Homo sapiens: one gene and its partners. The protein of the gene in region 1 purifies or fractionates together with the protein of each later gene. This does not show direct contact. Each region holds a gene or a part of one and is shown in the gene's direction. Other genes may lie near its edges. The genes, in order: COTL1, TIAL1, PINX1, JPT1, SH3BGRL and PGM2L1.

The links.
Region 2: the proteins of COTL1 (region 1) and TIAL1 fractionate together in Homo sapiens (co-fractionation; one large-scale study listed by BioGRID). This does not show direct contact.
Region 3: the proteins of COTL1 (region 1) and PINX1 purify together in Homo sapiens (co-immunoprecipitation; one large-scale study listed by IntAct). This does not show direct contact.
Region 4: the proteins of COTL1 (region 1) and JPT1 fractionate together in Homo sapiens (co-fractionation; one large-scale study listed by BioGRID). This does not show direct contact.
Region 5: the proteins of COTL1 (region 1) and SH3BGRL fractionate together in Homo sapiens (co-fractionation; one large-scale study listed by BioGRID). This does not show direct contact.
Region 6: the proteins of COTL1 (region 1) and PGM2L1 fractionate together in Homo sapiens (co-fractionation; one large-scale study listed by BioGRID). This does not show direct contact.

Annotation. Positions count from the first base shown.
Region 1 is NC_000016.10:84,615,279-84,619,461, reverse strand, and holds the start of COTL1 (coactosin-like protein), read left to right. Parts: upstream 1-1,383; 5' UTR 1,384-1,547; coding exon 1,548-1,624; intron 1,625-1,878; coding exon 1,879-1,961; intron 1,962-4,183. UniProt on the Homo sapiens protein: Binds to F-actin in a calcium-independent manner. Has no direct effect on actin depolymerization. Acts as a chaperone for ALOX5 (5LO), influencing both its stability and activity in leukotrienes synthesis.
Region 2 is NC_000010.11:119,579,828-119,584,703, reverse strand, and holds part of TIAL1 (nucleolysin TIAR), read left to right. Parts: intron 1-2,095; coding exon of another isoform or gene 2,096-2,146; coding exon 2,147-2,245; intron 2,246-2,480; coding exon 2,481-2,535; intron 2,536-2,694; coding exon 2,695-2,782; intron 2,783-3,857; exon of another isoform or gene 3,858-4,231; coding exon of another isoform or gene 4,232-4,233; intron 4,234-4,693; coding exon 4,694-4,769; intron 4,770-4,876. UniProt on the Homo sapiens protein: RNA-binding protein involved in alternative pre-RNA splicing and in cytoplasmic stress granules formation. Shows a preference for uridine-rich RNAs.
Region 3 is NC_000008.11:10,770,376-10,773,875, reverse strand, and holds part of PINX1 (PIN2/TERF1-interacting telomerase inhibitor 1), read left to right. Parts: intron 1-965; exon of another isoform or gene 966-3,360; intron 3,361-3,500. UniProt on the Homo sapiens protein: Microtubule-binding protein essential for faithful chromosome segregation. Mediates TRF1 and TERT accumulation in nucleolus and enhances TRF1 binding to telomeres. Inhibits telomerase activity. May inhibit cell proliferation and act as tumor suppressor.
Region 4 is NC_000017.11:75,151,055-75,156,412, reverse strand, and holds the start of JPT1 (jupiter microtubule associated homolog 1), read left to right. Parts: upstream 1-1,900; 5' UTR 1,901-2,015; coding exon 2,016-2,071; intron 2,072-2,169; exon of another isoform or gene 2,170-3,508; intron 3,509-5,358. UniProt on the Homo sapiens protein: Modulates negatively AKT-mediated GSK3B signaling.
Region 5 is NC_000023.11:81,277,770-81,282,645, forward strand, and holds part of SH3BGRL (adapter SH3BGRL), read left to right. Parts: intron 1-561; coding exon 562-642; intron 643-4,876. UniProt on the Homo sapiens protein: Appears to function as an adapter protein that bridges proteins together or proteins with mRNAs. May function as a ubiquitin ligase-substrate adapter.
Region 6 is NC_000011.10:74,395,069-74,400,644, reverse strand, and holds the start of PGM2L1 (glucose 1,6-bisphosphate synthase), read left to right. Parts: upstream 1-2,211; 5' UTR 2,212-2,483; coding exon 2,484-2,594; intron 2,595-5,576. UniProt on the Homo sapiens protein: Glucose 1,6-bisphosphate synthase using 1,3-bisphosphoglycerate as a phosphate donor and a series of 1-phosphate sugars, including glucose 1-phosphate, mannose 1-phosphate, ribose 1-phosphate and deoxyribose 1-phosphate, as acceptors.

The DNA of each region.
Region 1 (4,183 bases):
CATTCAATTTCTCGTTTTTGTTTTTTTGCTTGTTGAGAATTCTAACATTAATTGGACATTGTCCCTGACCTTTTGGGTTTCTATTTAGGATTTGTTTTTATCACTTAATAACCAACAATGATGACATTTTATCGAATGTCTAGTATATTTGTTCCAAGTATCATTTCAATTACACTTAAAACAAAGCAGTGATGTCAGTTATACTATTTTTCCCATTTGAGGAGTCATTTAAAAGAGGTTTTGAGGCTTTCCAATGGCCCCCAGTTGGAAAGTGGCAGTACTGGATGCAATTCAAGAGCCCAGTCTTCAGGATCCTGCCTTTTTACCTACCTGGACGCTGTAACTGGTCTCTGTGGAATGGCTGGATGAGGGAATGAATGAATGAGTCAGTGAAGGAATGAGGAAGACAGAATGAGTCAGCTCGTGCTTTCAGAGGAGCCCAAAGGGAGAGGTTAAGATAGGAATGCAAATGACCAGAATCCAGAGTAAACGCGAGCCCACCAGCGTTTTGGAAGCAGTCCACTTTCTACCCCCTCCTATTTAAAATGCTTCATTCTTTCCAGTTCCTCCCCACCTAGAATCCATGGAACCAAACGCTGGGGTAGGGACAGTGGCCAGCCTGTCTCCTTGGGTTTGACGCATTACATCATCCACGTGGAGGTCCCCTGTGGAGCTCTGCAGCCCTGCAGCCTCAGGGGCAGGGGGGTGGGGAGAATGAGGAAGGGGGAGAGGGGGAATAGGAGGAGGGAGTAGGGGACAGGGAGGGAGGAGATGCCAGGAGGGTAAGTGGAGAAGAGGGAGGCGAAGCCGGGGGCAGCAGGGGAGGGGGTCAAGGAGGAGGAAAGAGGAGAGCTTGGGGAGAAGGAAATAGGGAGGATGGAGAAGTTTTGGGCTGGGATAGGCAAGAAGAGGGAGGAGGAGAGAGGAAGAAGAATAAAGGGGGAAGGGAGAAAGAGGGGGAGGGAAGGGAGGGGGAAGAGGTCAGGGAAGTGGGGGAAGCAAGCAGTGGGGGAAGAAGAGGAAGGAGGAGGGAGAGGAGGAAGGCGGGGTGGGAAAGGGGGTTGGGGTAGTGGGAGTTTCCAGGGAGGGGTCGGGAGGGGAGGAGGGGAAGTGAGAAGGAGAAGGAGAGAGAAGAGGGATGTTGGGGGAGAAGAGAGCGGGAGGGAGGAGGGAGAGTGAGAGGGAGGAGGCAAAGCCCCTACTCCAGCCCCCACCGCGGAGTTGCGCAAGCCTTCCGGTCTGGGATTGGCCGCCAGAGAATCAAGACGCTCCGCCCCCGCAGCCCGACGGCCAATGAAGAGGCGGGCCGCCGCCTGGGCGGCCAATGGGCGCGGGGGGGCGGGGCGGGCCACGGCCTGGGGTCCCCGCGCGCTCTCCGTCCGCAGTGGAAGCCGCCGCCGCGCTCGCAGCTTGCAGGCGCCGCGTAGCCGTCGCCACCGCCGCCAGCCCGTGCGCCCTCGGCGCGTACCCGCCGCGCTCCCATCCCCGCCGCCGGCCAGGGGCGCGCTCGGCCGCCCCGGACAGTGTCCCGCTGCGGCTCCGCGGCGATGGCCACCAAGATCGACAAAGAGGCTTGCCGGGCGGCGTACAACCTGGTGCGCGACGACGGCTCGGCCGTCATCTGGTAGGAACTTTTCATTCGTCTCCACGCCCCGCTCCCCGGGCTCGCGCGGGGCCTCGTGCACCGAGCCGGCCTCCAGGCGGGACGGATTCGGGCCTCCCGCGCTGTCTTCCTCGCCTTATTCCGGGACGGCGTGCCAGGCCCCCGCGGGCTTCTCCGTGGCCAGCGCGTCTGTTAGATTGTCCTCTGCAAGCGCCGCGTCGCGCGGCCACCAGCGCTGATGTGTGTGTGTGTTTTTTTCTTCTCCCAACCCAAAGGGTGACTTTTAAATATGACGGCTCCACCATCGTCCCCGGCGAGCAGGGAGCGGAGTACCAGCACTTCATCCAGCAGTGCACAGGTAGGGAGGCGCGCCTGCCGGGCGGATGCGCGGTCGTTGGGAGGTTGTCTGCACCCGGGGAGCCCCGGCCAGAGCGAACCCGGGAGGAACCGGTGGCCACATGGGGTGCCCCTGGCGCATGGCGTGGGAGGAACCCGGTGTGAGCGTTTTAAGGCCTCATAAAACCTTCTCCCCTCTGGACATCCGAAGCAACAGAAGTGACCCACCTGCCTCCGCCATCCTACAATGCCTTCTCCAGGCGGGGCAGCTCTTTTGCCCCCTGCGGTCCACTGGTTTTCTAAGGTCAACTCCTGTGTTTCCAAACTCCAGTGTCCATCCAGCTCTTCCCACTGTCCCCTTTGATCAGTCACTGAGCCCAAATACGAACAGGCTAGGGGGCTGCTTGGAAGGGAAAGAAACTCAGCCGCGCCCTCCTTTCTCCCGCTATCATTGTCTGCCCGTGTGCTGATTTTATGTGATTTTTAATTTGACGAGTAGAATCAGATGCAAAAGAGTACACACCATATGATTCCATTTAGAAATCCTAGACAAGGCGAAACTAATCTATGGTGTGAATGTCAGAATCGAGATTAGCTTTTGGGGCTAGATAGCCACTGATGGGGAGGGGCACACCACCCGGACTGCTGGGAGCTGAAAATGTCTCTGTAGACATTTGTTGATCTGGGAGGGGGTTATGCAGGTGTGTACCCGCGTGAAAAATCATCAGACTGTATACTTAAGATTTGTGTGCCTTAGGCACTTCCCTGTGGCTTGTGAACCATGAAAAGAAAGACCACGTGGCAGGCATCGCCATAAACCCTTCGGTAGTGGCAGAGGCTCTGTGATGTTGGTAATGGGACCTTTTAAAGAGATTGGAGAATGCGACTCCCTCCCATCTCTGGTCTTTAGTTGGAAGCAAGCTTTCGGACAACGGCAGCACAGCCCGGAGGTTACGGCGTGGACCCTGAGCCAGACGGTGTGGGTTACTTATTTATTTATTTATTTATTTATTTATTTTTGAGACAGAATCTTCCTCTTTTGCCCAGGCTGGAGTGCAGTGGTACAATCTCAGCTAACTGCAACCTCCGTCTCCCGGGTTCAAGAGATTCTCCTGCCTCAGCCTCCTGAGTAGCTGGGATTACAGGCGCCCACGACCACGCCTGGCTAATTTTTTGTAATTTTAGTAGAGATGGGGTTTTCACCATTTTGGCCAGGCTGGTCTCTAACTTCTGACCTTAGGTGATCTGCCCACCTTGGCCTCTCAAAGTGCTGGGATTACAGGCGTGAGCCACTGCGCCCGGCCGACGGTGTGGGTTCGAATCCCTGAACGGCTGCTTCCTGGCTGTGTGGTTTGGAACGAGTTCCTTAATCTCTGGGGGTCTTGGTTTCCTCACCTGCACTCTCACAGTGCTGTTGCGAGGATAAGTGAGTCAGTATGTATAAAATGCTCAGAACAGTGCCTGTACAAGCTACATGATTGTTTGCGAAATAAATAAAAAGTACAAAATTGTGCCAGGGATCATGTGGGTGTTTCTTTCCTTAACTGCTTCCATAATCAAATTATATTTTGCATTTAGTTCAATTCAAAGGGTATTTGTGGTGTGACTACTAGAGGATGGGTGATACTGAGAACCCGCGTGCGCGCACACACACACACACACACACACAAAACTAAAATTACTCCTTGAGCGCTGCCTGTAGACATTCATTCATTGCTTTTGTAAACAGTTGGCCTAAAATCGCAGCATAAAGCACTGCAACGATGTGGAGAGTTGGCAGGGCAGGATTTGAACCCAGGCCTCCGTCCCTCCGCCTCTGTAGTTGAATGCTTTTGCAAGTGGAGTAAGTGCAAACTCTTAACTTTCTCCCCTCCGGTCCGTGAACAGCCAGGAGAGTCAGCAGTATTTCTGCTTTGCCGGCTCTGAGGCTATGCTTTACAGACCAGCTTCCCTCCCTAAATTCAGCTTCTTTCCTCCCGCTGGTCACCCATCCCTCCCTTCCCCCATCAAACCATGTTCTGCCTCTGAAGCTACTGTTCTCTCCAGCAAGTAGAAGGGGATGAGGAAAAGAGCATCCATCCCATCAGGAGGCTCCTGGCAGGTGCTCCCAGGCCTCAGCCCACTCTGGTGTAGTGGGAGAACACTTCCCTCCTCCCACAGGCTTGTGGTTTTCTGCTCAGACCCACCTCCTGCCCCCCAGGGATGGGAGTGGGGAGTGGCGCGTGTCTGGCGAGGAAGCTAAAA
Region 2 (4,876 bases), on another chromosome or scaffold:
GCGCCCGCCACCACACCCAGCTAATTTTTTGTATTTTTGGTAGAGATGGGGGTCTCACCATGTTGGTCAGGCTGGTCTCGAACTCCTGACCTCAAGTGATCCAGCTGCCTCAGCCTTCCAAAGTGCTGGGATTACAGGTGTGAGCCACTGCACCCAGCCCATAATTGATTTTTAGGATGTCACTTGGTGGTGTAAATAAGAAGCTTCCAGAGGGTATAAACTCTAGCAGAGTATCTAGCAGCTATTTATTTTTCTTTCATAAATTTCATTTCAGTATGTGAAAAATCCTTTTTCCCCCATAGTTTTATGATTTTTTTTTTACTTTAGATGTTGTTATCATAGATTCTAGCTTTCCTTATATAATACAAATATATATTATTGATTCTAAGTCAAATTTTTTTAGAATTTTAATATCTGACAGTTGGGATGTGACTTAGAAATAAGTGGTGTCTTAAATTAGATGATATGCAGTGTGATGTGAATATATAAAATATGTGATGTCAGTGAATATATGTGTATATATACATGCACGTGCATACATTGATTGGGAGCTGGCCTACTATTAGATAGATTTGAAATTGGTATTCACGAGTAGACTAGTTTCCTAAAGTGTATGGGATTATCATAGATCTGCTGTTGGACCCCTGTATGTTTTGCTGTGATTATCAGTGTTTTCCTTAGAGACCATTGGGGCAAAAGAGATAGGAGTGAAAGGAAAACTCAACTAGCACAATTTTAGCCTCTTATTTATTTTGATGTCCTTTCTTCAATGAATATTTATGGTAAATGTAATAACTCTTTTACAAGAATTTAAATGTGTGTTTTCATTTGAAGTCTTCCCCCATTTCCTTTCTTTACCTCTTAAGAACAGCATTCACGTGGCTACAACAGTAGGATTTTGTATGAGAGCCCATAGTTTTGTTGTCAGTATTAACGATCCCACTTTTTTTCCCTCAAGGAAATGCCTTCTGGTTCCTTTGCCACTATTGTTTAGACGTCTTATTTTGGATTTTTCTTCTAAAACTTTCCTGGAATGAAAAACTGTTGTGGTTGAAAAGATCTTTATTTTATCTGGTATATTTATCCCTTGTAAGTCCAACTAGAATTCCACATTTTAAATATTATTCTTATAGGGCATTTTACATTGAATAATGATGAATGTTTTTAGCCTTACATAAAAATATGTATTTGTACAGTTGTGCAGCTATTCAGTACAGGTTGCAGTTTCATAGAAATTCATTTCTAGTTTGGTTGTCAGGTGAGAATGTTGCTATAGCTTAGGTAGTACTACTTTCTTCACATCTTTATAAATGTGTTTTAGGTAACTACTGTCAAGCACAGGGTTGCAGAATATATTTAATATAGATTTTTTATATGGTGTTCTTATGATGTAAACTTATAGCTTTGTCTTGGAATATTTTATTCAGATACATTTTCAGAACCTCTTTTCTTGATCACCACTGTTATTTCTCTGATCTTTGGAAGACCAAATTCAAAGTATATAGAATCTTCAGTACATTAGACTATTTTGGAAGGTAGGGAATTCATTTCAGTAGCTGGTTATAAAGCTTAAGTTTTCTTGTTTTTATTTTCATTCTTTCCATATCCAGAAAAGAAATCAATAAAATTCAGTCTTTGTAGCAGCATAGAATTCCATCATTTGTAGTATTGATCCTAATTTTGATCAGTAGTTTATGAAGTTGGTTCTTGCTGTATTTCTGTATCCTGGGATACCACTTATAGAGGATTATGATGCATAAGTAGAACGTAATTTAAAAATAATATTGGAGAAGGAAAGTAGTGGTAAGGAGTGGTCCTCATCAGATCTGAGTTTGAGGTTTTGTTTGGTTTAATATAATCTTCTATTTTATATTTAACACACTTCACCAGAATTCTTTATTTTCATTTAATACTGATGCTCATGATTCTACAACTGCTTTTATAGTTCCGTTTGAGTTCAGCAGTATTCTGAGGTGCAAAGTCAGGTTTAGCTTTAAATCTTATTTAAAAAGTGTTAGGCTTTCATAAGCTTATGCAGTCTCACCTTGTATATTCCCAGCTATCAGTAATGTTTTTTCCTGGATTTTCTTCTCAGCAACCCGATAGCAGAAGGGTCAACTCTTCTGTTGGATTTTCTGTTTTGCAGCATACAAGCAATGACCCATATTGCTTTGTGGAATTTTATGAACACAGAGATGCAGCTGCTGCATTAGCTGCTATGAATGGGAGAAAAATTTTGGGAAAGGTAAGATAATAGGATGATGGCACCTTATGAGTACATATATTTGCATGTCAAACTAGTTTGTATTCTTTCTAGGCAAATTTTTGAGCAGATATTCGGCTGCTGAGTGATGGTTTTGCTTTATTCAGCTTAGTGCTTTTACAAAAATAACCCTGCTTGATAAATGATTTAATAAGTGGTAAGTGTTGTAACTCATGACATGCCTAATAATTTTATTAAATATAATCTTTATTTTTAGGAGGTCAAAGTAAACTGGGCAACCACACCAAGTAGCCAGAAAAAAGATACTTCCAGTAAGTACTCCTGCTGCATTTTACTGTGGAAGAGTTCTGAAATTATCCAGGAGGCATTACCAGCTTAAATAGGTTTTTTTTTCCTCCTCTAGAGTTGCCTTAAAAAGGTTTTAGTGGCTGACTTCTTAAGTATTTGATTACCAAATGCTCTGATTTCAGATCACTTCCATGTGTTTGTTGGGGATTTGAGTCCAGAAATTACAACAGAAGATATCAAATCAGCATTTGCCCCCTTTGGTAAAATATCGTAAGTATCATAATCAGTACTACACTCAGTCATGATAGGCAGAATTGTATATGATTAACTTGTAATTGAATTAAGATTTTCTTTCTCTAGTTAGTATGGTTTTGTTTTGTTTCTTATTTTTCATTTATTTATTTTGGTTTGTTTTGAGTAGTGGATGTTGTTGAAAATGTTAATGTCATTTCAGTGTCTTGGGGTCTCGTTTTCATCTAATCCTGTGTATAATATGTTAAAAAAAATTTAAGTGATTCTGTTTGTTATCTTTGAAGCAGATGTTTGAATGGTAAAACTTATAAAGTCTAGCTTTTTGTCATATGTTTTCAAAATTTGATGGTTTAGGATAATGAGTTAATCAAAAGTAAATGTGATCTATACTGTGTAAGAGTTCAATAACTTTTATAGGAGGAATTTATAAATGGGGGAGAGTAGGTAAATCCTTGGATATATTGTGATTAAATTGGAAATGTTCATGTTTTATTATGATAAATGTGTTTTTGATATTTTAGCTATAAGTGAAAAGTACTATTATACTATTAAAATGTTTCAATGTATGAGTCATAAATGTGGGATTAATTAGATGTTTTTGTTAGTGATATTTGATTCTACTAGTTAAGAGGCAAATGTGGTTTGATTTTTAACAAATTTATGCTCAGATTTTACTGTTGTTACTTGGTAAAAAATATATTGGAAAACTAAAAATGGTTATGAATTGTAGAAAATGTTTATCATAATTTATCTTTCTGATTAAAATCAGTTTATTTTGTATATTTCCTGTAGATTTAAATTAAACATCTTAGTACTACTTTACAGGAAAGTGTTTCAACTAAGAACAACAATATTTTCTCTATACAATTTGTTGTTCTATAGATTTAATTTCTTTAAAAGATGTAATTCTTAACTTTCTGTTTTGATATTTGCTTTGCTTTTTAATCTAAATGTGGTAAGTAGTACTATTTTAAAAATCAATATAAAAATAATACAGGTTGCTGTTTTTCAATCTTTATTTATACCTGAGACCTGCAGTTTTTCTTAAGTCCAAGTCACAATTAAAAGTAATAGCATTCTGGTTATTTTGCAGAATTGCTCATAAGAATGGACAGGATCTTGAAGGCTAACTGCAAGGAACTGTGCACACTGGAACTCAGTTGTAGATTTTTTTTCTCATTTCTATTTATTCTTATTATACATTATTTATATATACATATTTTAGTATTTACATTTTAACATTCTATATTCAGTGGAGTTCTATATTTCCAATCATTTAACTTACTCACTAAAATTTCTGTGTAAATTTGTTGTTTTCGTACTGGTGTGCTTAGCATTGTTGTTAGTTTTTTATTCTCCTTTCTTAAATTTCTGAAAATGTCAATTTTTCAAAATTTACAGCTGCCCAAACTCCAAAATGATGGTAGAGAATTGACCAAGAAAAATAAAGAAATCTGTTAACAGGCCATGTATGCCTTTTTAATTCCTATTTTTTCCTCTTTTTCAATTTTTTAATATTTCATATATTTTGTATCACTAGGCAGAAGACATTTAACTATTTAGAGATTGCATGGTAAAGTAGTTAGTATTGTTACAGTAATTTATAGAATCAGTAAACCTTAGAGGACACTAGTAAATAGAATATTAGAAAGGGAAACTGTTGTTCCTATTAATCTTCAAATTTGAGCATTTAGTTTAGAAAGCACAGGCTATTTGATTAGGTTGCATGTTTATTACATGTTTTTGTCCTACTGCTTTTTTCTAACAGGTAAAGAAGCATTAGGGAGAGTTCAGGAATGGTTGTAGTTAATTAGGGCTAACTGGAATTTTATTTTAAAAATGCTCACAATACAGTGTGTGTGGTTCCTTTTAGTTTTTATTTTGAGGGTGGCTCTTACTTCCCTCATTTAGCTGTGCTTCTTTTCACAGGGATGCCCGGGTAGTTAAAGACATGGCAACTGGAAAATCCAAAGGCTATGGTTTTGTATCTTTTTATAACAAACTGGTACGTTCTTCCATCTCAATTTATATTTTTTAATACTAAATTTAGTCATTAGTTACTTAATGTATTGAATCTGAAACTTGAATATACTTGAATGTTAACTACAAACA
Region 3 (3,500 bases), on another chromosome or scaffold:
TTCCGAGCCTGAGGGCCTTTCAGGGAGGCAGGAAGCCTGCTCCTCTTTCTCTTTCCTCTTTTTCCACAGAGGCTGGATGACTCTTGTCAGTGATCCTGATGTTGATTACTTGAGAAGCTGTTGCCATAGAGAACCATCCTTTTAAAACATGTTTATGTCGGCTTTTCCTAATAAGTGGCAATCGGAATAGCTGGTTAGGCATATGGGAAAAAATAAAAATAAAAAGACATAAAATTAACAGCTCTGTTACCATTGGCCTTCATATGAGGAATTTGGCATTCTGTGTATTTCTCTACTAAAGTCCAGCCAAGCTATTCTGTCCCTTCTAGTTCGTATTATCTTCTCCAATGTCCGGTGTGTCTGAGTTTGTAACTTCCAAGCGGAGTTCTGATGCCTGATATTAGAAAGGTATCTCTGCATACTTACTGGGTTGCTGAGAGTGCTCTTTGATGTCACATCACTTTTTAAACAAATTTTTTCTTTACTGGCTTTTGCTACTCAAAAGCAGGCAGCAGTTAGCAGCCTCTCTGCTGCTTGCTGACACAGTTCAGAAAGGTAGGCATTCTGTCGTTGGCAGGAGACAGAGCTTGAGGACTTTGTCAAAGCCCAGCGTCCTCCAGTTCCATACGTGTATATATGTACATGTGTGTATATAAAGGTATATTGTGTGTGTGCACTGGAAAAGCACCTGCCACTTCCAAAAGTCAGCCGTATTGTATTCACAGTCACAGAGCCGATTTTATAATACATTTATTCAGTAAATATTTACTTAGCACCTATTGTATGTACTTGTATAATGAGAAAGAAAACAAATTTTTACAAGATTTTTACTGAGGAAATTCAAAACTTTAAGGACACTGGTATTTGAAATTCATGTAATTTTTACATGTCATAAAATAGTTTTTTGTTTCCTCCTAACCATTTAGAAATGGTAAAAAAAAAAAAAAATCATTAAAAACTAGGCCCACGGCCATAGTTCACCAGTCTCTGTTCTAGAGAGAACCCTCTGGAACCCCTGCAGAGTGGGCTTCTAATACATGCCACAGGTTCTTACACCTGTTTCACATGTGCACGCACACACAATTTCTGTGTTTTCCAATTGAGTTGCTGCATAATTCTCATTCTGTTATTGTATCTTTGCTTTTTAATACCACTTCAAATCACAACTCTCTTCAGTCAATGGGGTTTTATATTTGTTTTTGACTCTTGTGATACTTGCTAATGCTAAAACTGATTGTGTCTCCCAGGCAAATTCCCCGAGGCTGCTCATTGCCGAGACTTGGTGCGTTTAGCCTAATTCCAGATGTGAGCGATGAATGTCTTGAAAAATGTACAAGATTTCACACTTGAAAAGCTTTTTGTGAGTGTAAAAATAGCTGTTCATCAATAAAACACTGGGTGTTTTCAGTTACATGGAAACCACGAAGGAAAAGCATGAAACCACAGAGGTTCCATAGAGAGAAGAGCAGGGCCGCCCGCCATAGTGGCTCAGGGCAGGCTTTCCAACGAACGGCCGTGAATCACTGCCTAGCTCAGCCTTCAGTGGCAAACCCATTTCAATGACTCCCTAGAATCAGCTTGCCCAGGTTGTTTTCAGCTAAGATATAATGTAGGCTGTGCCTTCACAGCTTGCTACCAGAGGCTGCTGGTGGAACTTCCATCCCACTGCTGTTCTCCAAATGAGCTGCTTACCTTTGTATGTGGTATGCACGAGAACTCTCTTCTCTTTACCAAGAACAGTTCTCTTCTTTAGCAAGAACAGTTCAGTCTCTACTGGCATTGCTTGTGTTCAACTAATCCCACAAAAAGAACGTGGCAGTTCCCATACCACACAGTACCTTGCTTTTTTCCAATTGACTTGTCCCCTCCAAGGCAACTGTGGTAACATGTGGAATGACAGAGCAGAAGGAGAAATGGATGGATCACTGGACTGAGTTTCTATTTATTGCTAAGGGCCAGGAAGGAACTGGCTGACAGCAGACGACACTCAGATGTACTCTGCAGTAGTTAGAGAAGCAGTTTGCATCACGAGGCAAGGGAAGGTGCTATCTGATGAGAAGGGGGTGGTTTCATGTGGATGGGAGGAATCTGCACTCAAAATGCTGATTCTCTTCTTACCCTCCCACACCCCTTCTGGACATTAGACCTGCCTGATGTGCAGACAAGTTCGTACTGACAAACACAAAGCATTTGGGGCCAGTGGGTGGTGGTGGGAGCTCTTCACAGCCTTGGTCCAGCTGGGTTTGGTGTCTTTGTGCCTTTGTTGAGCACTTACTGTACCTTGTTCCTCATTAGGGAGGTTGTGGATTGTATGAATACAAATGCAACATAAATGGCCCCTGTCCTCAAGAAACTTGTTTCCTTGGGAAGATGCTAGCAAAGCAAATTAAACAAATACAGAAAATAGAAGCAACAAGTTGCTATTATGGGGAATAAACAAGAAAGGATGTTCACTTGGGATTGGACTTGTGGAAGGAAGCAGTCACACACTTGATCTTCAAGAAAGTGATGCACGGGACTGTGTACAGGGGATGTGGAAGAACATCGTAGGCCAGCATAGGGAGTGACTGGGTCAGTTCATCCTGCCCCTTCTGTTGGAGGAGTTTAAAGTACACACACAGCTGACGGTGGGGTCTCCACAATCCCTTTGTTTTGAGGAGTCACACACAGTCACTTCATACCTGAAGGGATACATGAAGACATAATTTGTGTTTGTCAGAACTGCCCCACTGAAAAGTTTGGAAAAGGTACAGAATGTTCTGTCAAACCACTCACTTGCCAAGCTTTCTTAACTTTTCACAGACTAACCCAGCACAGGCTGATGACAGACAGGCTGTGGTGGCAGTGAGCATTTGTTCATCACAGGCAATAGCCATCAGGGCTCACAACCCCAGTTGCTAAATACATTACCCTTGATCTCTGGGAGTCTACTTTGTTAACAAAGTTCATTGAAGGATTACTGTTGCAGCATGACCTCCGTGTCTTAATGTGGAAATAAGAAAGCTTCCATCATCCTGTCACTTAAGATCAGTAGTGATGTATGAGCAAGGCTGGCGAGCTGAAAGACTTGCCTTTGAAGCCCATTTCCTGGACTGGCATGTTGATCATAAGTAGGGGGATTCTGTAGTAAGGTGCATCTGCTTCTGGCACTTCACTAAGGTCTCTGTGCAAACTGCTTCATTTCCTTGCCCCAAAAGATTCTTTTGAGAATAATGGAGAATCCTCTCTATTTGGGCATTGTACTAATAATCCATCTCAGTATACATGTTTGAATGACACAAGAGCAAAGTCCTCCATGAGCCCAGAGGATCTTGCGCAGATACTCACTCATGTAGCTGCAGAGTCTCCAGATGGAGGATCCTAAAAGAAGCAGAACAGACTTTAATTCTGTAGACATCCGAGAAGAGTTGATACATGTAGCTTCAGGCATCTTTCAGGGACCGGAGAGGACTGTGGTGTATTGTAATTGATACCCGCAGGGACTCTCTGCAGGGTCAGCT
Region 4 (5,358 bases), on another chromosome or scaffold:
GGAGGCGGAGCTTGCAGTGAACCGAGATTATGCCACCGCACTCCAGCCTGGGCGACAGAGCGAGACTCTGTCTCAAAAAAACGAAAACAACAACAACAAAAAAAGAAAGAATGGGAAGATTGGCTGGGCGTGCGGTGGTTCACACCTGTAATCCCAGCACTTTGGGAAGCCAAGGTGGGTGGATCACGAGGTCAGGAGATTGAGACCATGCTGGCTAACATGGTGAAACTCCATCTCTACTAATAAACTACAAAAAATTAGCCGGGCATGATGGCACGCACCTGTAGTCCTAGCTACTCGGGAGGCTGAGGCAGGAGAATCGCTTGAACCCGGGAGGTGGAGGCTGCAAGTGAGCAGAGATCGCGCCACCACTGCACTCCAGCCTGGGCGACAGAGCAAGACTCTGTCTCAAAAAAAAAAAAAAAAAGCTAAGATTTTGGCTAGATGCGGTGGCTTACACCTGTAATCCCAGCACTTTGGGAGGCCAAGGAGCATGGATCACCTGAGGTCAGGAGTTTGAGACCAGCCTGGCCAATATGGTGAAACGCCGTCTCTACTAAAAATACAAAAATTAGTCAGGGGTGGTGGCGCACGCCTGTAGTTCCAGCTATTACGGAGGCTGAGGCAGGAGAATCGCTTGAACCTGGGAGGTGGAGGTTGCATTGAGCGCCATTGCACTCTAGCCTGGGTGACAAGAGCGAAACTCCACTTCAAAAACAAAAAAAAAAAAGAAAGGAAAAAAAGAAGGGAAGATTCTAACACAAACAAGTGGTGCGCTTCGTGCTGTTGTGGTAAGCACATAAATGCATCATCCGTGCTTTCTAGAACAGAACTTCTCACTGGCTTTTCATGAAAGCCCGGGGGGGGAGGGTGGTTAACCTAGACTGCCCAGAATACAAACTTCCAACTACCTGAAAGGTGGCTTTGCAAAGAGGAATGTGGTTCAATTATTATGGAAATATTGAGACAAGCAAAGACATCTGCCTTGAGGAAATATGCAAGACATGAGAAGGGCCTGCCCTCTTTTGCCCAAGGCTTTCCTATTATGATCTTGTAAACCATCATTCCTGAATCCTCCAAGTGTGTCTGCATTTGTCGCATGGATAGATTTACCCAGACAGGTGGAAGAGTCATGACTTAAGGGTTATAAACAGCTGCAGAGGCCTGAGCTGCTTCCATAGTCTTGGTAGCAGGGAATGAGTCCATTCCTGGTGCCAGGCATTAACCAGCCTTAGAATAGGCCCCCAAATAGGAGCGACTGTAATTTTGGTCCAGTACATGCACCACCCATTACAACTAAACAGTAACATTAAAATGTAAGGAATTTCCAGTCCTTTTAAAAGGGATCATCTTGGTGCGCTCTCTGTTGCTGACTCATTGTGCGGCTGCTTTGAGACTATTAGGTTTCTAAATGGGACACACAGTAGGTATTCAACAGATAAATGTCAACTTGTTGCAGTACTTTTCATCCTTTAAGGAGGATGCCCTTACTATCCCACCATCAGTAAAGCAAATGAGAGAACAGTAACAGTGACAAATCTCCCTTCTGCTTGCCGAGGTTGTAACTCCCCAAGAAAGAGCTTCCCCCTCTGTCAGGTAACGTTTTACAGTGACAGCCAGCACGACTTCCACCCAGCGCGAGGTAGATTCGCCTTCCGTCCAATCATCGCCGAGATTTTGGGGTGGGGGAGGGGAGAGAGTCCCAAGGCCTTCCCAGTCCAGGAAGGGGGCGGGCTTAGGCTGAGCCGTGGCCGCCACAGCCCATCGTAATGCCGCATGGTGCTTGGCACTCCAGAGAGCCAATAGGAATGAAAGAATTCATTTGAATCGGCCAATGCCGGCGGGTTAGGGGGCGGGGGTTGAAAACCCTATAAAGGCGTCGATCGGCCGGACAGGCGGCAGCGGCGGCTCCTGCAGCGGTGGTCGGCTGTTGGGTGTGGAGTTTCCCAGCGCCCCTCGGGTCCGACCCTTTGAGCGTTCTGCTCCGGCGCCAGCCTACCTCGCTCCTCGGCGCCATGACCACAACCACCACCTTCAAGGGAGTCGACCCCAACAGCAGGAATAGCTCCCGGTGAGGCGACCGGGTCGCGCCCGAGCCGCGCGGGGCTGAGGGGCTGGGAGGGCCGCTGCCGGCGGGGCCTCGCGCCGGTCGTTGCGGGTAACGAGCCCCGTGCGCTGTGCTCGCGCCGGGGCGGGTGGCGGGGTTCTGCCGTCGGCGCCGCCTTTGTGCCGCCTGGCGAGCCCTGCGCGCCGGCCCCACCCGGGTCCCTGCTGCTCTCCATTCATTCCTTCCACGGAGTCAGGGGCTGAGGAGGCCGGGGCTGGTCGCCCCTCGGAGCACGGCCGGTTTTCGTTAATCGGAACCTTCGGGGAGGGCTTCGCTTTCTCCTGTGTGCATCCCGGCTGGTGCATCCCCAGGGTGGTGGGCTTGGCCCCCCAGGTGCCCGGGGATCCTTTAGGGCCCCATGCATGGTCAGGTCCTATTGTCCCATTGATGGGCCACGCGCTCCTGTCTCTCCCCCGTGGCATGCGGTTGGTCTCGCTCTCGCGCGCAGCCATTGGATCCGGAGACCGGATCGATCAGGTCCGGCGGGCTCCTTACCCTCGCCGTGCCCCCACTCCTTATTCGGACCTACCTGACAGGTGCATGTGTGGTCGAGCGGGGCTGGTCATCGCGACCCTTCACCCCCCATTGAGGACCCAATCGTTCTTCCCCTCTTCGAAGTGCCTCCCCTCTTCCAAGTGTCTCCCCTTCCTAACAAAGGAAAGACCCCTTCTCCCCATCCCTGCGCTCATTTCTAAGGCGGGGGGCGGGGGCGGGCGCGGGGAACGAGCCAACCCGAGTGGGTTTTCTGCGCTTAAACCTTCGGACCGTGGCCTTTGCATCCTACCTTCGCTTCCTCCTTTGACGTTTGCCCAGTGAGTTCATCCCTGGCCCTGGTTCCCTTGCAGGAGGAGGTTTCTTGTTCTTGGGCGGGGCCGGAGACATCCATTGTCTCTAACGTGGTAGCGCTACCTGGGAAGCGGGGGATTTTTCTTGCCCTTCTTCCCACTGCTTTTTGGGCTTGGGGCACTGGGTACAGTGTTTGGACAGGAACCCTTTTCCAAGTCCTTGCTTAACTTACTTGGTGGAAGGGTTTGGATTCTGTGGAAGGTGTCCACATTGTCTCAGCTAATTGCACACTGTTCTTTAAGGTGGGTTACAGTTATGTCTGGGATCCTCTTCAAGGCTTGGAAGAAGCTTAAATCACTTTTTTGAGCATGTATTTTACATCGATTATGACCTGCATTCATGTGTGGCTACCCTCGGGGTCCTGGCCAAGTGGCACAAAGGGAGCCATTTTGTGGGGCTAAGAAGACACGTGAAATAGCCATATCTCACAGGGGTTAGAGAACTTGGGAACAAAAAGCACGCCTCACTCAGCAATTGAGCCTTAGGAGGAAAGCATGGGAAATGACATTCCTTTACAACTCAATACTTTCAGGTTTACAAGGTCAAAAAGACTAGGTAAGATTAAAAAAATAAATTGGTGATTACTGGGAGGATGGGGTACTTAAGTAGCACAGACCTAGGAAACTGGTCGCTCCCTTTCTGTTTTCTTTCCAATGAGATGATTTCTTCAGAGAACAGGAAGAGATTGAGCCTTGGTTTTTCATTTTGTGTTACGAGGCCAACTTTCTGCCGGTTAGACTTCAGTCGTCGGAATGATAATGTGTAATCTGGGGTTTTATTCTTTGGGGTTGAGTTGATATTAGTGTTTTGTAAAGAATTTCAGTAATTAGGTCAAATGAATCCTCACACTTAGTTTTTCATGTGTACATTTGAAATGTGAGACAAATGAGTTCTGATCCTGTGAAATGAATGTTTAATTCACCTTTCGTCATCAATTTCCCTCCAATATTATGCTCTAGGGACTGTAGTAGCATTGTCATTTTATTGTCTCTCTACCTTCCCTTTTTCTATATTCTCACCTAATTCTCATAAACTTAATTTTGTCCAGTAATGTTCTCCTGGCCCCATAAACTCGTTATAAATTTAGTCTGGTAGGGAATGATCTGCAAAGATATACAGAAACTTCAGGATTTTAAGAGAGAAGAAAGAAAAGGAGCAATTTTTTAAAAATTGCTATTTACAGTACATGGACACATTTTTGTTCAGTCTTAAATATATAATCCTGATTTAGTTGTCGTGTATGATTCTGAAAGAATAGTAGGATCCTAAAACATTGAGATACTTTCTGCCTTATGATCTACATCCTTTGTTTGGGGATATCTCACTATTACAAATGGTCTCTACAACACTGACGTCATCCGAGTTGGTTACTACCTGCTATTGCAGGAGGAACAGAGACCTTTAAAAAGTGGGACTGGTTAGAGTTTTGACTTGCTCTTAAGCTGGTGTTCGGGTACTAGTGTCTTTTTCTTGATTTTTTTTTTTTTTTTGAGACGCAGTTTTGCTCTTTTTGCCCGAGCTGGAGTGCAGTGGCACAATCTCTGCTCACCGCAACCTCTGCTTTCCAGGTTCAAGCGATTCTCCTGCCTCAGCCTCCCGACTAGCCGAGATTACAGGCATGTGCCAAAACGCCTGGCTAATTTTATATTTTTAGTAGAGACGGGTTTTCTCTATGTTGGTCCAGCTGGTCTCGAACTCCTGACCTCAGGTGATCCGCCCGCCTCGGCCTCCCAAAGTGCTGGGATTACAGGCGTGAGCCACTGCGCCCTGCCTTATTTTTTTTAATTAATTTATTTTTTTGAGACAGTCTCACTGTGTTGCCAGGCTGGAGTGCAGTGGCATGATCTCTGGCTCACTGCAACCTCTGCCTCCCGGGTTCAAGCGATTCTTCTGCCTCTGCCTCAGCCTCCTGAATAGTCGGGACTACAGGCATGTGCCACCACGCCCAGCTAATTTTTGTACATTTGTAGTACAGACAGTTTCACCATGTTGGCCAGGATGGTCTTGATCTCTTGACCTTGTGATCTGCCTGCCTTGGCTTCTCAAAGTGCTAGGATTACAGGCATGAGCCACCGCTCCTGACCTTAATTTTATTATTATTATTATTATTATCATTATTATTTTGAGACGGAGTCTCACTCTTTTGCCCAGGCTAGAGTGCAGTGGTGTGATCTTAGCTTACTGTAGGCTCCGCCTCCTACAGGGTTCAAGCGATTCTCCTACCTCAGCCTCCGGAGTAGCTGGGATTACAGGTTCACATCACCACGCCCAGATAGAAGTGCTAAATATTCTTAGAAAAATGTTTCTTGGCCGGGCGCGGTGGCTCACGCCTGTAATCCCAGCACTTTGGGAGGCCGAGGCGGGCAGATCATGAGGTCAGGAGATGGAGACCATCCTGGCTAACA
Region 5 (4,876 bases), on another chromosome or scaffold:
TGATGTGGAATAAATCATTCTGCAGTTTTTGTGACATAGAATAGCATACTTTTCAACCTATATTAAATAAGATCCAGAAGCCTTGCCTCTTTATTACTCCTTATTCCTTCCAGAATTCTAGTATTATGGAAGTTAGTCTCTCTGTCCCCAAGGAGGTAGATGATTCTGTCGACCAGTCAGGTCATTCTGAATAAATCTCCTTTTTTTCTTGAGATGGAGTTTCCCTCCTGTTGCCCAGGCTGGAGTGCAGTGGGGTGATCTTGGCTCACTGCAACCTCCGCCTCCCAGGCTCAAGCGATTCTCCTGCCGCAACCTTCCAAGTAGCGGGGATTACAGGCATGTGCCCCCACCCCTGGCTAATTTTTGTATTTTTAGTAGAGACAGGGTTTCTCCATGTTGGTCAGGCTGGTCTCAAACTCCCAACCTTAGGTGATCCGCCCACCTCGGCCTCCCAAAGTGTTGGGATTACAGGCGTGAGCCACTGCTTTCGGCTGAATAAATTTCCTTTTTTTCTTTTATTGGTTGCATATTGCTAATTCATCTTATCTTCTTTTCATCAAGGACTATGATGCCTTCTTTGAAGCCAGAGAAAATAATGCAGTGTATGCCTTCTTAGGCTTGACAGCCCCACCTGGTTCAAAGGTATGATACCCTTTTTTTCCTGTTTTATAGGTCATTTTATTGCTGCTGAACTTTTTTAATCAGTAAGATTTTCATTTTTGTTAAGTATTCAAATTAAGTCAGAGACAATCCTTTATAGCAAAAAGTGCCTTCTCTGCATCCACTTAATTCCTATTAGGGCAGAAAGATGTGCATAACCAAATGCATAAACTATGTGTTTAGCAGGTAGGTAGAGTGACTTCCCCATCAAGCTGCCCATGGGAGCAAATTTCTCATTGACCTATGCACAGATAAGTGCTTAGCAATTTTAAAGCCTTCATTATTCCAGCTGTCCTGCATGGTTCTACATCGACAGTAAGCATCTTAGTTCATGGTAATCTCCTTGGCAGCACTTATTGTCTTTGTGTGAGAGCAAATGATAGAGTCATCCATTCAAGTTAATTAAGAGCATCTGCATTGCAAAACTGGTCACTAAATTGCTCGCCAAATTTGAGGCTTTTTTCCTGCCAACACAAATTAATTTTTTAAGTAGCAGCATTTTCAGGAGAGACCAAATAAAGAAAGCAACAATAAAGTTGCCTGTCTAGTGAGATGTCCCCAAACTATCAACTTTAAACATACCTTTGCCTTTTATAGTAGTTCTTCACACAAACTGCCTTAATCAAAATGCGTGTCTCTTGCTCTGTCATTTTATGTTTTGCTCTTAGCAACTAATTGTATGTTAGACAGATTCTTTGAACTCCAATTCCCTCTCCTATTTTAAAAGGCTGTGTTATTGTCTGTTTTCACTAGACAAAAATTTACTAGTACTGTGTTCATGTCATTGTAAAATGGTTTTCTTGCCGAACTTTCTTTTCCCATGGATAAAATCTTATATTTTAGGCTTTGTACAATTTGAGCCATAAGAAAAGTGAGGTAAGGCACTTTTCTTTAAATAAGATAGAGTACTAGATTGCAGCATCTGCAATCCAGACAGAGCAGCATCTGGAGGCTTGCATTGTGCATTTTAGCCCCAAATAGACTGCAAGAACAAACCAGCAATCCTGAGAGGACCCACAGACCCTCTCAAGGAAGTGGACTGCTCATGTAGGACTCAGGAGACACCCCAAATACTGTGAGTGCCCCAACTGAGGAAGTGGAAAAGGGAGACCCTCCTCTCCCGAACAGATACCCTCACTGGAGAAACTGAAGGTCTGTTTGCGGGAGAAGTTTCCAACTTTACCTGGAGCTGAGTCAAGTTAGAGAGCCCAGCGAAATACAGGGGTAAAGGAAGCAACAGGAAGGCCCTGGTATCTCGCTGGGTCCCCAGGCAGCTCATTTCTGCCTGGCACCATAGGGATCCATCGGGAGGGTGGCCAGAGGAGCAGGGGTTAAAACTCCACAGAAAGAAGGAATTCTCTAGCCAAATTTTGTAACAATTCGAAAGGGGAAGAAGCCTCCTGGCCAGAACTCGGGGGAGGGTGCAAATCTCGCTTGCAGACTTCACAGGCAAGGGAAGAACCAAAACCCTTTTCTTTCGCAGCTGGGAGGTGGATAGCCTTGGGTGAATTTTTAAGCCCCTCTTGCCCTCCACCTGGAAACAGACTCAGGGCTGTTGGACGGGGGCTTGGTGGAAGTGAGACCAACCCTTCGGTTTACCTGGGAGCTGAGTGAGGCCTGTGACTGCTGATTTTACAGGACTTCCCTGACAATCTGCCTGACTCAGCAGAGGAAGCCATCCTAGGTATAGAACTCCAGTGACCTGGGAATCTCACCCCCACCCCTCACAGCAGCCACAGCAAGACCCACCCGAGGAGAGTCTGAGCTCAGACATGCCCAGCCCCTCCCCCACCTGATGGTCCTTCCCTTTCCACCCTGGTAGTGGAAGACAAAGAGCATATAATCTTGGAAGTTCTAGGGCCCTGCCTACTGCGGGTCCCTCTCCGCAATACTACAGCTGATGGTTTCTGGAAAGCGCCACCTCCTGGCCAACCAGCATAAAAATAGAGCATTAAACCACCAAAGCTTAGGACCCTCACGGAGTCCATTGCACCCTCCACCTCCTCCACCAGACCAGGCACTGGTATGCATGGCTGAGAGACCCATAGATGGTTCACATCGCAGGACTCTGTGCAGACAACCGCCAGTACCAACCAGGATCTGGGTAGACTCGCTGGGTAGCTAGACCCAGAAGAGAGACAACAATCACTGCAGTTTGGCTCACAGAAGCCACATCCATAGGAAAAGGGGGAGAGTACTACATCAAGGGAGCACCCCATGGGACAAAATAATCTGAACAACAGCCTTCAGCCTTAGACCTTCCCTCTGACAGAGCCTACCCAAGTGAGAAGGAACCAGAAAACCAACAGTGGTAATATGACAAAACAGTTCCCTTCAACATCTGCAAAAAAATCACACTAGCTCACCAGCAATGATCCAAATCAAGAAGAAATCCCTGATTTACCTGAAAAAGAATTCAGGGGGTTAGTTATTAAGCTAATCAGGGAGGGAACAGAGAAAGGCAAAGCCCAATGCAAGGAAATCCAAAAAATGATACGAGAAGTAAAGGGAGAAATATTCAATGAAATAGACAGTGTAAGGAAAAAAACAATAAAAAATTCAGGAAACTTTGGATGCACTTTTAGAAACACGAAATGCTTTGGAAAGTCTCAGCAATAGAATTGAACAAGTAGAAGAAAGAAATTAAGAGCTCAAAGACAAGGTCTTTGAATTAACCCAATCCAACAAAGACAAAGAAAAAAGAATAAGAAAATACGAACAAAGCCTCCAAGAAGTCTGAGATTATGTTAAACGACCAAACCTAAGAATAATTGGAGTTCCTGAGGAAGAAGAGAATTCTAAAATCTTGGAAAACATATTTGGGGGAATAATCAAGGAAAACTTCCCTGGCCTAGCTAGATATATATACATCCAAATACAAGAAGCACAAAGAACACCTGGGAAATCCATTCCAAAAAGATCTTCGCCTTAGGCACACTGTCATCAGGTTATCCAAAGTTAAGACAAAGGAAATAAGAGCTGTGAGACAGAAGCACTAGGTAACCTATAAAGGAAAACCTATCAGATTAACTGCAGATTTCTCAGCAAAAACCCTACAAGCTAGAAGGGATTAAGGCCCTATCTTCAGCCTCCTTAAACAAAATGATTATCAGCCAACAATTTTGTATCCAGTGAAATTAAGCATCATATATGAAGGAAAGATTCAGCTCTTTTCAGACAAACAAATGCTGAGAGAATTCGCCATTATCAAGCCACCACTACAGGAGCTCTAAATCTTGAAAGGAATCCTGGAAACACATCAAAACAGAACCTCTTTAAGGCATAAATCACACAGGACCTATAAAACAAAAATACAAGCTTGAAAGCAAAAGCAAAAAACAACAATGAAAAAATCTAGAGTACACAGGCAACAAAGAGCACAATGAATGCAATGGTACCTCACATTTCCATGCTATCATTGAATGTAAATGGCTTAAATGCTTCACTTGAAAGATACAGAACTGCAGAATGGATAAGAACTCGCCAACCAACTATCTGCTGCCTTCAGGAGACTCACCTAACACATAAGGAGGCACATAAAGTAAAGGGGTGGAAAAAGGTATTTCATGCATATGGACACCAAATGAGAGTGGGGCAACTATTCTTATAACAGACAAAACAAACTTTAAAGCAACAGTGGTAAAAGAGACAAAGAGGGACATTATATAATGGTGAAAGACCTTATCCAACAGGAAAATATCACAATCTTAAACATATATGCACCTAACACTGGAGCTTTCAAATTTATAAAACAATTACTAATAGACCCAAGAAATGAGATAGACAGCAACACAATAATAGTGGGGGAATTCAATATCCCACTGACAGCACTAGACAGGTCATCAACACAGAAAGTCAACAAAGAAACAATGGATTTAAACTCTACCTTGGAGCAAATGAACTTAACAGATATATACAGAACATTTTATCCAACTGCAGAATACACATTCTATTCAACAGCACATGGAACTTTCTCCAACATAGACCATATGATAGGCCATAAAATGAGCCTCAATAAATTTAAGAAAATTGATATTATATCAAGCACTTTCTGAGACCACAGTGGAATAAAACTGGAAATCAACTCCAAAAGGAACCTTCAAAACCATGGAAATACATGGAAAGTAAATAACCTGCTCCTGAATGAGCATTGGGTTAAAAACAAAATCAAGATGGAAATTAAAAAATTCTTTAAACTGAATGACAGTAATGACAC
Region 6 (5,576 bases), on another chromosome or scaffold:
GAACTGAATAAGAATTGTCTTATAAAAAACACTGTTTAACAAATTTAAATATAACTCATCATTAGATCTTGTTAAAATGTAGGTTCTGATGCAGCAGAACTGGACTGGGGTATGAAATTTTGTATTTCTTAATAAGCTTCCAGAGGACATCAGCACAGTTGTCCTCCTAATCACACTTTGAATTGTGACAGTCAATAGATATTTCAAATATGCAGGTACCTAGGCCCTATGCCAATGTATTGATTCAGAATCTCTGGAGGCAGTGTCCAGGAATATTAATTTAAACAAACTCCTAGGGAGATATGAGAACCACTGATCTATGGGTTTGAAATATCCTCTATCTTATTCTCAACTTGTTTATTTTGTTTCTGAAAGCCCAGTGCAGGTCCCTCCTGCTTGATGCTTTTTTCATTGACCACCTCAGATGTAAATTCATTAACAGTTGTTGGCAGCACTTGCTATTTATCATGGGCTTTCTTTTCTTACATATATCCTGTCTCCTCAGATGTTACTTCTCGAAGTGAACAATTATATAGATTCTTGTAGCCTCAGCTCCTACCATAATGCTTAGCAGAGAGTAAATGTTTAATATGTATCATGGATAATAATGGTGATGGTAGTGGAAGATGAATTTCTCTCCAGGACACGTGACTGTTGCCCAGGCCTTGTGTGATTAAAAGAACAAGAGTCCTGCTGACTCCACAAAAGAAACAATCGTTAGCAAAAACTGCAACTCCCAACTATGGCACGTTTTTCAGAAACTGGTACCACAATCCTTTTGTACCTTGGTAGTTTGAATTTTATTATGGTAAATGGCACTTTAAAGGAAATAAAGTAATACTTTGAACTTAATATGTCTTTTATCTGTGAACCTCAAAGCAGCCTAATGCCATTTATTAAGTTACTGTACAGCCATGATGTAAATATTATCATACCTTCCTTACAAAAAAGCTGACTAGGGAAAGAGTTGTAATGTACTTGCCCAAAATCATAGCCATTCTAAGAAGGCCAAACCAAGAAACGGAGGAGTAGCTAGGTGGCTGACAGGTCAGCACTTCTCAGCATTTCCCAGACCTCAACTTAGGTGAGCTTTCCATAGGAGAGACGGCTAAGAAGTAACGGAAGACTATTTCAATTTGGGTGAACCAATTTCCTTTTCCTCCGTATTCCCATTACCATTGCTCTTGGTATCTTGTGATGCTTATACATTCTTATATTTAGGTTAAATGCCGACCATCTTCCCTCAACAACTTCCTTATCTATTTTCCAGTAATCTTGTTCTCCCTACCTCCTAGTTTACTATAGCAGCAGAGATATTAGATTGGTACAAAAGTCATTGCCGTTTTTGCCATTACTTTTAATGCCATTATTTTTAATGGCAAAAACAGCAATTACTTTTGCACCGACCTAATAAAATAACTGCCAGCTGAGGGGATCTGAAATGAGATTGGAACCCTAGTTTGACCGCTCACGAACTCGGCCTCTTAGGAGAGGTGTCTCAGGGAGTCAGTTTCTTCTTTGTGTGTGAAACGGAAAAGGACTACGCCCCTGTACCTTACTGAGGGATTGAGGCGATAGAACGCGATTCGTAAACTGCACAGCACTAAACGGATACCACTTTGTCCCCTTACTATGTCATTCCTTGTTTAATTTAATGCCAGGGCCACACAGCGCAGCATAACTAATAGGGATAGGGCGTGTCTGTAGGGAACTACCTCGAGGTAGATCTTTTTCTTTTGAGGAAAGGGGGAACGCGGAGCTGCTGGGAGTCGTAGTCTCGGCGGCGGTCTCCGCTGAGCTCAGACAAAGGAAAGAACTACAACTCCCGTGAGGCAGTGCGCGGACAGCTCGCACTGCCCCTCCTCCCCCAACCGGCGCGTGCCCCCAAGAGAAACTGGGGGCCTGCGCGCGCGCTGGGGACCTGCAGGGCAAGCGCAAAGGCAGCTTGCTAGTGGTAGCCGTGAGAGCAGATCGAGGAAAGGAGACCCTTGGCAAATTAAAAAATAAAAAGAACCGTGCACTATTGCCTCACCACCCGGACGGGCTGTAAACCCCCACTACTTCGGAGGCGTGGGGAGCGCGCTCCCGGGCTCCAGTCTAGAACTTCGGGGACTTAAATCAGCAAGGGCGGGAAGGGGCGGGGCCTAAGGCGCGGGGCGGGGCCGTAGGCGGGGCGGGCGGCGGCGGCGGCGGCGGAGCCAGGACCCAGACATCTGGGACTGTTGTTCTCTCGCGGCGCGACCGCCTCAGTCACTTCGCCCAGAGACCCGGACCTGGTCCGCTGGGGAGCAGGCGGCCATAAACCCCCTCTCTCCCGGTTCCCTGACGCCGCGGCAGGAGCTGTTACGAACACCCTGCGGTTGGTCTCCGATGCCCTTCAGTGAGGTGGGGACGCCTGGACCCTGGTGAGCGAACCCCAAGCCACCCCCCACCCCAACTCAGTGTCTTCGCCGGCCCCCGGCCCGTACGCCTGTCTGGTCGCCATGGCTGAAAACACAGAGGGGGATCTGAACTCCAACCTGCTCCACGCCCCCTACCACACCGGGGACCCTCAGCTGGACACGGCCATCGGGCAGTGGCTCCGCTGGGATAAGGTGGGTACCTGGTCAGCCCGGCAAACGCCGTCGCCTCCCCCACACAGTCTGCTCTTTCCTGTGCCCACCCAGCGCCCCGCGGGCTGCAGAGGAGATGGCTCGGGACACCGAGCGGGGGGCAGCGGAGCAGGGCGTTGCCACCCACCTATGCGTGGGGTTGCTCCTTCGGACTGCCAGAGCCGGGCGGCAACATCTGCATCGCTTCCTTCTGCAGTGCTCTCAATTGTAACCTCCCTTCCTCTTCTTTACCCTCTTTCCTTTCAAGTGCTGTCTTCCCTCTTTCTTCAAAAAAAAAAAAAAAAAAATCATCATCATTGTAAGTTATACCCTAAACAACGATTTCCTTTCCCTTTTTCTCCCTTGACTTCCTTCTCCACATACCTGAAAGTGGTTTCTGGCACCCTTACTGGGCGTTTCTAACCGCTATCCGCTTTAGTTCTGGTCTGGTGTGTTTCCTCCTTCTGTCGCTAGGTAGTTGCTGGCCTTTTATCACTCCCTGGTATTGTCTAGTATCACCTTTTGCTGTTGGGAAAGGCAAGGCGCTTACCTCTTCTTTCTCCTGCTGGCAGCTATTTTCTGGAATTAATCTGTTCAAGGAATCGTGTTTTCCAGGTTTCATGTGGTACTCTTAATACAGGATTGTTTTTGCCTTAACCATTACTTCTCTACCAACACCTCCCCACCCACCCTCCGCCCCCACCTCCAAGTTGTGGTGGTAATTAAACCTCGTGCGGGCATTTGGGATGAATTTGTGACAATCAGAATTAAAATGCAGCTATCTTACTTGTAAAAGAGGTCCCTGGTAGCTCCAACAGAGGAAGATAATCCAAGCTTTTGCTTTGTCAAGTGCGTAAAATACCTTTGTTGAAGTAGAGAAGGCAGCACATTTAAAATGGAATTAATGACACTGAATTAAGGAATTTGTATGGTAGTATGTGACATTATGTTGTACAAATGAATTTCCTTAAGGCTTCACTTTCTGAAAGTTTTGTTTTTACTTTATTCATTCATTCATTCAGCAAAAAAATATTGAATGCTGAGTGCGTGTTTTAGGTCTTGTTAGACCCAGGAAATACTTGTGAGGAAAATAGAAAGGGTTCCTGCCCTCAACAAGCCTCAGTTAGCAGATGAGGAAGACCAACAAATAAGCAACTACAATGAGGTATTTGGTGTTAATTGGTCATATGTATATTGGACGAATAATTCTTCCTCTACAGTCTAAACTAATGCTTCTCAAACCTTAATGTGCTTATAGATCACCTGGGGATCTTGAAATACAAATTCTGATTCAGGAGGCCTGGGGTGGGGCCTTGGATTCTGCCTAAGAATGAATTTCCGGCCGGGCGCCGTGGCTCAGGCCTGTAATTCCAGCACTTTGGGAGGCCGAGGCGGGTGGATCACGAGGTCAGGAGATCGAGACCATCCTGGCTAACATGGTGAAACCCCGTCTCTACTAAAAATACAAAAAATTAGCCGGGCGCGGTGGCGGGCGCCTGTAGCCCCAGCTATTCGGGAGGCTGAGGCAGGAGAATGGCTTGAACCCGGGAGGCGGAGCTTGCAGTGAGCGGAGATCGCGCCACTGCACTCCAGCCTGGGCGACAGAGCGAGACTCCGTCTCAAAAAAAGAAAAGAAAAGAAAAAAAAAGAATGAATTTTCAGGTGATACTAATGCTGCTGGTCTGTGGACCACACTTGGAGTAGCAAGACTTTTTGTTCTCTTTAGGTGCCAGTTTTAACTGTACTTTTCCTAATGAGTCTCCTGATTGATTTTTTTTTTTTTTTTTAAACAGGGTCTCACCGTGTTGTCCAGGCTGGAGTGCAGTGGCGCGATCTCCGCTCACTGCACTCACTGCAGCCTTGAACTCCTGGGCTCAAGTGATCTTTCTGCCTTAGCCTGCCGAGTAGCTGGGACTACAGGCACATGCCACCACGCCCGGCTAATTAAAAAAAATTTTTTTTTTTTTAGAAATGGGGTCTCACTATGTTGCCCAGGCTTGTCTTGAACTCTGGGCCTCAAGGGATTCTCCCACCTCAGCCTCCCAAAGTGTTGGGATTATAGGCATGAACCACCACACCCGGCCCCTGAATTATTTTTAAAAGATTGTTTGAATGAATTTATATTTATTGATTGTCCATTCTATGCCTATACATTGTTGGGATATACTGAAATATTAAAGAAACCTGTAAAATGCACATAAAATAATAATGCTAGGGTAGTTTTGGTGGCAATTAAATGGTTTGTAGGCAGTCAGTTCTTGCAGTTCAAAAGTAGGAGTAAACGGTGGACTGAGATGCTCAAGGAAGACTTCATTAGAAGATAGGATACATAAAAAGAATGAAGAGAGGTCAGGCACGGTGGCTCACGCTTGTAATGCTAGCACCCTGGGAGGCCAAGGTGGGCAGATCACCTGAGGTCAGGAGTTCGAGACCAGCCTGGCCAACATAGTGAAACCCCGTCCCTACTAAAAATACAAAAAAAAAAAAAAAAAAAAAAAAAAAAAGCCAGGCGAGGTGTCACGTGCCTGTAGTCCCAGCTACTCAAAGGCTGAGGCCAGAGAATCACTTGAACTTGGGAGGCGGAGGTTGCAGTGAGCTGAGATCGTTCCACTGCACTCCAGCCTGGATGACAGAGTGAGACTCCATCTCAAAAATAAATAAAACAAAATAAAAATAATGAAGATAAAACTTCATTGAAAGTGGAAGATAAATTCTTAATTTGTATTTAAAGTGCCTCTGAATATAAGGCATTAGCTGAAACCTGTGAGAGATAGAAAGATGAAATAGATATGGATCATATCTTTAAAGAAAATAGAAGGGAAGGAAAAGCATAAATAATAGGGGCAAGTAATAAGTATCCTTAACAGAGGAATAGATTAAGTAATTTGTTAATTATTTAATAAATATAATAAATTTCTTCATTGATCCTCTCTTAATAGGAGAGAATACATTTAATGGAGAAATTGTATCTACTGTAGATTGATA